2 separate regions of the Homo sapiens genome follow, and region 1 is linked to region 2. Evidence: fine-mapped expression QTL. A gene starts in region 2. The other region holds a variant in brackets. All regions are shown on one strand. Distances are from middle to middle. Region 1 overlaps DNAAF9 (dynein axonemal assembly factor 9). Region 2 holds the start of SLC4A11 (solute carrier family 4 member 11).

The links. PIP is the estimated chance that this variant, and not a neighbour inherited with it, causes the effect.
Region 1: its variant is the best candidate, but not a certain one, in a credible set for the expression of SLC4A11 in fibroblasts (GTEx, PIP 0.53).

What each region holds. Positions count from the first base shown.
Region 1 is chr20:3,330,764-3,336,134 of GRCh38, forward strand. It overlaps DNAAF9 (dynein axonemal assembly factor 9), which reads right to left. Exons shown (of 37, transcript NM_001009984.3): 11 at 1,517-1,598. Among named protein-coding and RNA genes, the nearest start is that of DNAAF9, 74 kb to the right of the region's middle. The variant T/C (reference allele first, on the strand shown) is at 3,292.
Region 2 is chr20:3,236,142-3,241,512 of GRCh38, forward strand. It overlaps SLC4A11 (solute carrier family 4 member 11), which reads right to left and starts at 3,049. Exons shown (of 20, transcript NM_001174089.2): 1 at 2,954-3,049; 2 at 1,403-1,447. The coding sequence starts at 2,996. RefSeq lists silencers at 2,859-3,038, 3,139-3,298.

The DNA of each region.
Region 1 (5,371 bases), 95 kb after region 2:
ACCTGGAAGGCATTGTCAAGAACTACACTTTTTTTTTTTTTTTTTTGAGACACAGTTTAGCTTTGTCGCCCAGGCTGGAGTGCAGTGGCGTAATCTCGGCTCACTGCAACCTCCGCCTCCCAGGTTCAGGCGATTCTCCTGCCTCAGCCTCCTGAGTAGCTGGGATTACAGGTGCACGCCACCATGCCCCGCTAATTTTTGTGTTTTCAGTAGAGATGGGGTTTTGCCATGTTGGCCAGGCTGGTCTCAAACTCCTGACCTCAAGTGATCCACCCACCTCAGCTTCCAAAGTGCTAGGATTACAGGCGTGAGCCACCATGCCCAGCCTACTTTTTTCTTTTAAGTTAAATATAGTACAAACACCAACAACAGTGGAACCCGGCCATTCCCAATAGCCTCCTGAACCTTCACCCGCATTTTCCACTTTTACAACCCACTCAGCAACACCACTAAATACCAGAGATGTGTGGAATCTTAGGTTCTGGAATGTTTTTGTTTTTATTTTTAATTTTTTAAACTTCGAGACATCAGTAAACAGGCTCAGTTCTACCTCTTGCTTTATCTCCTTAATTACCTGACCCAAGTTATGCTTCTTTCCAGAGTTTCCTGGCTTATTTAACATCATCCAGAATAAAATACGGTTCCTGACGTACTCTCCTCTGTGTAGCAATGCTGAGACCTGCGTTCATTCCATAGGTTCTTTTCCATGTGTCTTTGGATACCTGCAACTTCTGGTTACCCCAGTAAGCAGGGCAGCCCCAGCAAGCCTAGCCTTTCTGGATGGCCCCACAGCATGCTCCTGCTCCTAAGTACCCTTTTATTATGGCCTCTTCTCACTTTCCTCACAAGAACAGTCCAGTGGGCACCTGGCTGAGTCATCCAAATTCCCACTGCGGACCCCACCTCTTGCTTTTTTGTTGTTGTTGTTAAGACAGAGTCTCACTCTGTTGCCCAGGCTAGAGTGCAGTGGCTCAATCTTGGCTCACTGCAACCTCCACCTCCCAAGTTCAAGCGATTATGGTGTCTCAGCCTCCTGAGTAGCTAGGACTACAGGTGTGCACCAGCACGCCTGGCTAATTTTTGTATTTTTAGTAGAGATGGGGTTTTGCCATGTTGGCCAGGCTGGTCTCAAACTCCTGACCTTAAGTGATCTGCCTGCCTGGGCCTCCCAAAGTGCTGGGATTACAGGCGTGAGCCGCCATTCCTGGTCCCTACCTCCTGCTTTCTTAAACTAGGTCTTATTCATCTTGGCCTCCCCTGTGACACCTAGCAAAGGGTTATACACATGGTTAGACTTAATGTAGGCTGCACCAATCATCTTCCTCTTGAAACACATTCTGTGAGAAACGTGTTAGACATATCAACTATCCAGAAGTAATCAGAGAGGGAGCTGGAGGCCCACAAATTGGGTAACCTGAGCTTCCAAGCAAAGTAGTGAATTGTATGTCAACTTCTAGTTCATGGGACAGACTATTCATTAGATAAGCTGATGAGATGACAACTTATAGGGACTTACCCAAGTAAGGAACATGAGTAGCTCCAAAAAAGTATGTTCTCGAACAAGCAAGAGGTCCCTTTGGTGAGACACACTGGGCTACCTGGATGTCAGAAAAAAATAAAAATAAAAAGGGGCAATAACTTAGGCATGTACTAGTAGATAAACAAAAAGTATAGAGTCAATGGAAATAAATTTTCTTTTTTTTTTTTTGAGACAGAGTCTTACTCTGTCATGTAGGATGGAGTGCAGTGGCGCAATCTCAGATCATTGCAACCTCCACCTCCTGGGTTCAAGTGATTCTCCTGCCTCAGCACCCCCAGCAGCTGGGAGTACAGGCACATGCCATCACACCCAGCTAATTTTTTTTTTTTTTTGTATTTTTAGTAGATACAGAGTTTTGCCATGTTGGCCAGGCTGGTCTCAAACTCCCGACCTCAGGTTATCTGCTCGCCTTGGCCTCCCAAAGTGCTGAGATTACAGGTGTGCACCACTGCACCTGGCCAGAAATAAATTTTCTTCTACAAAACAGATTTATTATTTTTTAAAGACACAGGGGAAAAGATGATCTTTAACTGTTTTTCCAAAGGTATCTTTTGGTGCGTGTGCGTGCGTGCATGCGTGTGTGCGTGTGTGCGTGTGGTGTGTGTGTGTGTGTGTGTGTGTGTGTGTGTGTGTGGTTTAAACCTTGGCTATATTGTGAGGGTGCTGTTGGATACTCAGTTAGCCCAGGGATGCTAGGGCAATCATGATTCAGAAGGAAAAAGGAAGCAAGGTGTTTGGGTTTTGACTGTCATTAATACTTAGTCCAGAGCTTTCACAGTGAAGCCCCTGGCTGACATGACAGGCAGAGGTGTGGGACAGCTCCAAATTCAGGAAAGGATGGTGCTATCCACATCCCCACAACCATTTGTATTTCATCTCTGTACATAGACCCTGCGGAAGAGAAAATAAGTTCCTCTAGGTTTTCAAATTTTTATTCTTCTTCCCTGTTAAGATGTTCATTGATACAGAGATAAAATAGATGTCCTTTCCTCTTCTGAAAATCCAACATCTCATGAGGGTTCCTAGAATAATAGGTATAAAATGCAAAAATACTACCACAAGAACTAAAGGAACATTAGTAAGTACAATATACAAAAAGTAGCTAAATACAACACAAATACTCATTCCTTCTATTTTACTCAATTGTTTAAGACAACAACACTAGAATTCAAGGCATTTTTCTATAACATTGTGAATCCAAGTTACAGATTGGAAATGAGAACTTATTCTAACTAAGCTATAAAAAAGTTACTAATAGTGAACATCATCAATATTGCCATGACAATGAATGAAAACTCATGGAGGTATTTCTAATTGCTGGTTGATACATATTTCCTCAATTAAAACATGTTCCTTGGATCTCCAATTTTCCCTTATTAAAGGTTTTTTTTTTAAAGGTGCCAAGTGTTTGTGCTATGAATTGAGTTAAAGTCACATGGTTTAAACCCCAGATTTGAAGTGACACAGTTCTCTTTCACTTGTGTACACTTGAGTACGTGAATCTGAAGTCTATCTCAGTCAGAAGATCAACACACCAGCACAGGTGTTGGCCAGTAGAATGGGATCTATACACAGAGTCAACATTTCTCTCAGGAAAGAACTTTGGATTGTCTTAAGTAGTTAAAATAAGTAACTGTCTAAACCTTGGTGTCATAGAGCACGACTCTTAAAAACATTTTAAGTCAGGCTGAATCAATTGCGAGCTTTCCTGGAAGACTATAAAAAACAAGAAGAACCTCAAGACAGCTTCA[T/C]TGGATGTCTGGTGTAAAGGTACCTATCCTTGTATTCAAAGGAAGATTTTGAAATAAATAAGTAACAATATATATCCAGATAATCTTACCCACAGCCTTGGTTTTAATTACCCCCTTCATACCAAGGGAATGCTCAAATGTTTACTTCTAGACAAGACTAATCCTCGCAACCCTAGACTTATGTATCTAACCCACTGCCGCCTCAGCTCCACTGGGGTGTCTCACGGTCATTTCAAACTCACTGTCTAAAGTGAACTTCACACACATCCAATCTGACTCTCCTCAGTGTTCCCTCTCCAAATGAATAGTTTCTTTGTCCACTCAGTACAGACATCAGAATCTTGGAGCTTCCATGGCTTTTTGTGGCTTGACAGCTCTTTTCTTTTTATCCCTAAATAGCATCCATTCACTTACTGAAAGACATCTTGGTTGCTTCTAAGTTTTGGTAATTATAAATATCCATATGCAGGTTTTTGTGTGGACATAAGTTTTTAATTCTTTGGGTAAATACCAAAAAGCGAAATTGCTGGATCTTATGGTAAGGCTATATTTAGTTTTGTAAGGAAATGCCAAACTGTCTTCCAAAGTGACTGTACCTTTTTGCATTCCCACCGGCAATAAATCAGAGTTCCTGTTGCTCCATATCCTCACCAGCATTTGGTGTTGTCAGTCTTCTGAATTTTAGCCATTCTAATAGGCGTGTAATGGACATCTAAATTATTGCTCCAAACATTTCCTAGCTGGCTCTCAAGTCAGCCCCAGGATGATAAGAAATTCACGACTCAGAAGGAAAAAGGAAGCAATGTGTTTCGGTTCAAACATTTCCTAGCTGGCTTTCCCTGGAGTTTTCAAGTCTATGAGATCCTCAAAGGCAAAGATCATGACTATCCCTTCATCTAGCACAGTGACTGGCATTTACTAGACATTCAACAAGGATTACTGACTTAATGAGTGAAAACTCTTTGGCTTTGGAGTGATACAGACCTGAGAGCAGAAATTGCTTTTATAATACAATCTATAATGTGGATATACACTGGGTGGTTTTTTATTTTTATTTTTTTGGCAACTTTTGAGATAAAACCATTTTAAAGTATATAATTCTGTGGTACACTGCCTTGATCATTTTGTTCTCTTCCCTTCCTGATGTTCCAAGATTCCTTCTTTTATCATTTCCTCTCTGTTTAGACCAAATTTCTTTAAGTTATTCTTTTAGGTAGGTCTTCCAGCAACAAATTCTTGTAGTTTTCGTTCATCTGTGAATGTCTTGATTTTCCCTTAATTCTAGAAGGATATTTTTGTTAGATACAGATTTCTAGGTTGACAACTCTTCTCTTTCAGCATTTGAAATATAGGTGCCACTTCCTTCTGGCCTTCATGGTTTCTGATGAGAAAGAAATACAACTTTCACTCAAAAATTGTTGGCCGGGCATGGTGGGTCACGCCTGTAATCCTAGCACTTTGGGAGGTCGAGGCGGGTGGATCACCTGAGGTCAGGAGTTCGAGACCAGCCTGGCCAACATAGTGAAACCCTGTCGCTACTAAAAATACAAAAATTAGCCAGGTGTGGTGGTGGGCACCTGTAATCCCAACTCCTTGGGAGGCTGAGGCAGGAGAATAGCTTGAACCCAGGAGGTGGAGGTTGCAGTGAGCCGAGATCATGCCACTGCACTCCAGTCTGGGTGACAAGAGCAAAACTCCGTCTCAAAAAAAAAAAAAAAAAAAAATTGTCTTCCCCCTATGGGTAAGGTGCTATTTCTTTCTGGCTGTTTTCAAGATTTTTTGTTTGGGCTGAGCGTGGTGGCTCATGCCTGTTATCTCAGCACTTTAAGAGGCCAAGGCAGGTGCATCACTTGAGGTCAGGAGTTCAAGACCAGCCTGGCCAACATGGCAAAACCCTGTCTCTACTAAAAATACAAAAATTAGCCAGGCATGGTGGTGCGCACTTGTAGTCCCAGCTACTTAGGAGGCTGAGGCATGAGAATTGCTTGAACCCAGGAGGCGGAGATTGCAGTGATTCAAGATTGAGCCACTGCACTCCAGCCTGGGTGACAGAGCGAGACCCCATTTCAAAAAAAAAATA
Region 2 (5,371 bases):
GCCGCCAGTTTCCTTGGCACATCCCAGGCCCTGTTCCCCCAGTGTCCTGAGTTTAGCCTGGGCCCCTTCTGGGTAGGAAGCCCTAGTGCCTCCTGCATCAAAGTCCCCAGGGACTGGTGACTCCCAGGCCCAGGCCTGCACTACCTCCAGAGCCCAGAGAAGAAATATTAGGTCAAAAGACATCCTTGCCTTTGGGAGGCCAAGGCAGGCGGATCACGAGGTCAGGAGATCGAGACCATCCTGGCTAACAATGGCTAACATGGTGAAACCCTGTCTCTACTAAAAATACAAAAAGAAATTAGCCGGGTGTGGTGGCGGGCGCCTGTAGTCCCAGCTACTCGGGAGGCTGAGGCAGGAGGCTGGTGTGAACCCAGGAGGCAGAGCTTGCAGTGAGCCGAGATCACACCACTGCACTCCAGCCTGGGCGACAGAGCGAGACTCAAAACAAAACAAAACAAAACAAAACAAAACAAAAGACGTCCTCACTGCTTTGGTTCTGGAGCTCATGATAAACTCCTTCCTCCCCGGGTCAGGCTTGCCTTGTTTAAACTGTCTGGTTCCCCTGGCCCGAACTTGTCCCAGCCTCCCCTCTGCCCCTCAACCAGCACCCACTAGTCCCCTCCACTGCCCTTCACACAGCCCCGTTCTTCCCCCATTCTTCCCCTGATGCCCTCAGCTCTACCTTAGACTTAGTGCTCAGGTCCCCTAGATTAAGGACCTGCCCAGCTGACACTACCAGGTTCCTGGGGGGCTCCTGCAATGCCAAGTCCTAGTCCCAGCCCCATACGTAACCTGCCCACCAGCAGCCTAGCACACAGAGCCCCATGTCCTGAGGGCTCTGGGTAAGGGAACATCAGCCCTGTGTCTACGCACTGCTCTACAAACAACCCTCGAATGGTCAGGTCACTCATGGGGCTAGGCACAGGACACAGCCTGAAGCCAGCCCAGAGACATGAGGAGGAAGACAGCTGGACTGGTACAAGCAGGGACAGCAGGAAGGTGCCCGAGGGACTGCAGCACAGAGGCCTTATATTTCTTTAAAGAGACAACGACAGATATTCCCTCCAGGGCTGGGTGAGGACAGAGGGACAGGGGCACACAGAATTCTTGGCCCAAGGCTAGTCAGATAACAGGCCATTGTCACAGAAAACCTTGGGTAAGAATCCCAGAGGGTTCACCTGGTCCAAGTAGCCCAGGAGAATGGGCAGCCTGCCCTCTCAGGTCCACGGGGGATCCGCCCATGTCTAGCTTCCCGAAGAGTGGAAGCCAAAAGCATTCCAGCACTAGAGTGGCCCAGATAGGCGAGCAAAGCCACAGGACTCTGGTGGGTAGGCTATGCACCCTGGAGGCTTTTGCCCGACAAGCTCTCTCTGCACACACACACTCCCCGAGAGGTACTCACTTGAATCCTCGAAGTATCCATTCTGCGACATGGTGGGAGAGTTTTCTGCAAGGGAAGCAGAAAGGTCACCAGCCCCATGGACCAAGCCCTGGACCTCCTGTGTGCACCTGTCTCCCCGCCCCCCGACCTGGCTCATTCCTTCGCTCTTCCGAGGGATGCAACCCACGCCACCCTAGGGAGAAAGGGAAGCAGGGGACAGTGCTCGGGAGGGGGCCCCATAGCAGGGGAAGCCAGCCTTAATCTCAGAAATTCAATTGCTTAGCCCATCTGCTAGGGGCTGCCCAGGCGGGCCAGAGGCGAGGAGGAGAGACGTTCCAGGGATGTCTTCCCACCGAGTTAGTACCAGTACCATGTTCGCTAATCCAGGTTTTCCTGAGAAAACCCTGCCCCGCTGCAGCGAGAGGAAGGGACCGGGCCCGAGCGGGCCTCTCCCCCTCTCTCCTCGGATGCCAAGGCGGGGGATCTCTCTGCACATCCCTCTTCTCACTCTCAGACCGGTCCTGGGGGCCATAAACGCCCATTGCAGGCGCAGTTCCCCCGACCCCCGTCACGCGCCCCGGGTCACACGGGGGCCGACAGGCAACGGTCTCCAGTCCTGGGACCGCGTCCCGGCCGCCTGGAAGCCAGAGCCGTTGGTCCAAAAGGGAGAACAATTGGGGGTGGGAGGAGTATCTGAGGGACACATGGGTCGGGGGAGGCTGCGCCCTCCCTGGGCCGGTCCCCGGATGGTCCCGGCTGTTTGTGCCTCGCTGTCGGAGGAAGGAAGCGACAGGAGGGGCCGCGTGCACGAGAGGAAAGCGCCTCCAGACTCGGAGACCCCGGGGGTCGGGGCGCAGGATGTGAATGCAGGCGCGGGGCGGGAGCCGGGGCTGCATCCTGAAGTGGGGGGCGGGGGCGCTGGGGCGCGTCCCAGGCCGTGGGCGACGAGGGTCTGGGAGGGTTGGGCCGGTGCACACTCCGCTTCCGTCCCGGCGGCCCACGTGCAGGTAAAGGGTCGTACAAACCTGGGTCCTGGCGGGGACCCAGGGCTGGCCCTCCCGTGTCAGAGCAAGGGAGAAACCGCTGCGGCCGCGCAGGGCACGGTCAGGGGTCCCGGGACTCCCAAAACTCCAGGGGTTCCGGGGCTCCCACCGCGGCGCCGGACGGGAAGATGCCCGGGCGGAAGGTAAAATGAGACCTTCCGAGGCGGCGGCCCGCCAGGCTCCCAAAAGCTCGGCGCTCGGGGCGCTGGGAGCCCCACAGCTCCGCCCTGCCCACTTTCGAGCTCCCCGCCCTCGACCCGCTGCATCAGCTGTTCAAACCTGGTAAGAAATTCAAGACGGCGACAGCAGAGCCCTAATGAAACCAAGCGCGCGGTGGCCGCGAAGCCGCGCCCGGGCCTCCCGCACCCGCGCCCTCCTCCCCGCGGCTGGGAATCCCGCAGCCCTCTCGCCCACCGGCCCCGGCCCGCGCAGGCAGACGGCATCCGCGTTCTCCCCGGGGTCCCCGACGGGAGACGGTGGCGGAGACCCGGGCGGCCTTCCCGCCGCGCCCCCGGGTTCAGGCACCCACCGCACGGCTGCAGATGGAACACGCGCCTGGTGGCCGCGGCCATGGCACACTCGCGCACTCACGGCCGGGCTCCTCACGCGGCGCTCCGGCGCTTCTGGACCCCAAACTCGGCGACTCGGGCGGGCCGGCGGCGGGAGCCGGCGACACACCCCCACGCCGCGCCTGGGTCCTAATGCCGCTCAGACGCCGCGCCCGGGCGCGGTAGGCAGAGCTGCCGAGGGCTGGGACCCGGCCGCCCGCCCCGCGCCCTCACCCGCGGGAGGCTGCTCCAGCCGGGCTGGGCTGCTCCCCGCCGCCCGCAGCTGCTGGGCCAAACCGAGTAGACCCGGCTCCTTCGAGCCTGTGCGCGCCGGACCCAGCAGACCCAGCGTCGCGAGTTTAGGGGCTGGACGGGGCCGGGGAGCTTCTGGGAAAACGTTCGACTGCGCCACGAGCCCACCGAGCTGTGCGACTGAGGCAGACCCCGGGAGGGCTTCCCCCGCGTCCGCTTTAAGTACGCGGCCGGCCCCTGTCTCCTCCTTTCGACCGGGGACCTCCGCAGGGCCACGCCCGCTGGCTGCCCCGCCTCCTGCATTTATCCCGGTAGCTCCGGCCGCAAGTCCTTCTCCTCCTCCTCCAGGAAGCGCGCCCCGACTGACTAGACGGACCTCCGTGCATTCCCCGGGCTACGCCCTCGCCCGCTGAGACGGCGCTCTCCGAGCTCGGCTGCTTTGGGTTTTCGCTGCGAGCCTCGCCAACTTATCTGCCAGCCTCTTCACGTCCTCGGCCTTCTATGAGGTCAAGGTCATGGTTCGCCCCCTTTTTCCTTCCCCAAATGGCCCTTGCGCCCTGTCCCCTTTCCTGGACCGGCTGCGACCCGCCCGGGGACGCGCCTTTTCGGGGCGCTTAGTCTCCTGCGAGTAGGGCGTGTGCGCGTGTGGGTGCGCGTGCTGCGATGCGATCCGGCAAATGCAGCTGACGAACCCCTGGCCTGATCCACGGTGGCTCCCAGTAGAAGGCTCTACAGCCCTTGGAAACGGAACACGCAGCTCCGTAAAGCGCTAACCAACCTCCCGACCCCTCCGGCCGCCATCGCTTTCCGGCTCAGCCGCGCTGGGACGGAGTCCTCGGCCACTGTGCCCTAACCATGGTAGAGGAACGGGGACAGGCCGGGGCAAGCCCACCTCTGCGAAGGAAGGGCTTCTGGCGCGTTGGGGAAGCCTCATGCATAGATTGGGTGAGTAAGGCTGGCCCAGTTCTCCTCCCGGCAAGATAAGAACGCATTAGGAGGGAAGCGCTGGAGTGCTCCTCTTGGCGACGGATGGCCTGGGGCTCTGCGACAGACTGAGTACCCCACCCTCCCCCAGCGCGACTCCAGGAGGCCTTGTGGAAGATCCCAACACCATGACCTGCAACTGACTTGGGGCTGGCCACATAGTATTTTAGCAGGGGTGACTCTGGAGAGACACCAGGTCATCCTGCGCACCCCTTGGGACCTTTCCTAGACGCCCTCCAGCTAGAGCTCCAGTCCAGGCACTGACTCCCGGGTGGCGGGTGGAGGCTGAGGAAGAGCTGAAGGACACAGGCGGATGTCGCCCCCGGAGCATGGCTGCATAGGTGGCATGCAGGCTGGATCCCTGAAAAGCCACCTTGCCACCCCCAGTCTCCCCCATCTGGGAATGCCTTGGCTTCTGCACCTGCTCCCAGCAGCTCCCAAACACCTGGTCCTTCCAACCCACTTGTTCCAGGAAAGCCTCTGGGATGGAGGGCGCTTCCCCTTACCACAGTCTCCTCAGCGCTCCTCAAAGGACCTAACCCCTCAGCCCACTGAGGAAAGAGGAGCCCATGACCAAGCCGCCCCTAGTCGGCTATGGGCCCCCTCTGTCCGCTCCCTGACCGTCTCTCAAAGGAACTGGCACTGAGCCCTTCTCTGCTACACCTGTGCTCTGCCCCTGCGGTTCTGTTCCCTCGGCCTTCCTGGAGGGAACCCCTGAGGCCCACACGCCTGCTGCCTCCAGACTGACCGTTTCAGAGGCTGTTTCCTTCAGTCCTCCCACCTGCCTCCTGTCCTGTGTAGATCGTCTGACGCTGAAGGCAAATACTGGTGCCCCAGATCTCCTGTCCTGTGCCCCACTGGGTCCTTACATAGGCAGGCAGGTTGAGGGACCCAGACGCAGGCACCCACTTTCCCTCTCATTCCCTCCCTTGGGGTCTCAGACTTTACTGGGCTGTGGACTTGAAACTGTAACCGCTGGGTTCCACAAGGCGCACTTAACAGTTTTCTGCTGTCCTCCCCTGATGCCACTTATCTTGCCTGTGGATTGTAGAATCTGGGGTCTGAAGTAAATGTATAACATCTCATTTTTAGGCCGGGCTTGGTGGCTCACACCTGTAATCCCAGCACTTCGGGAGGCAGAAGTGAGAGGATTGCTCAAGCTC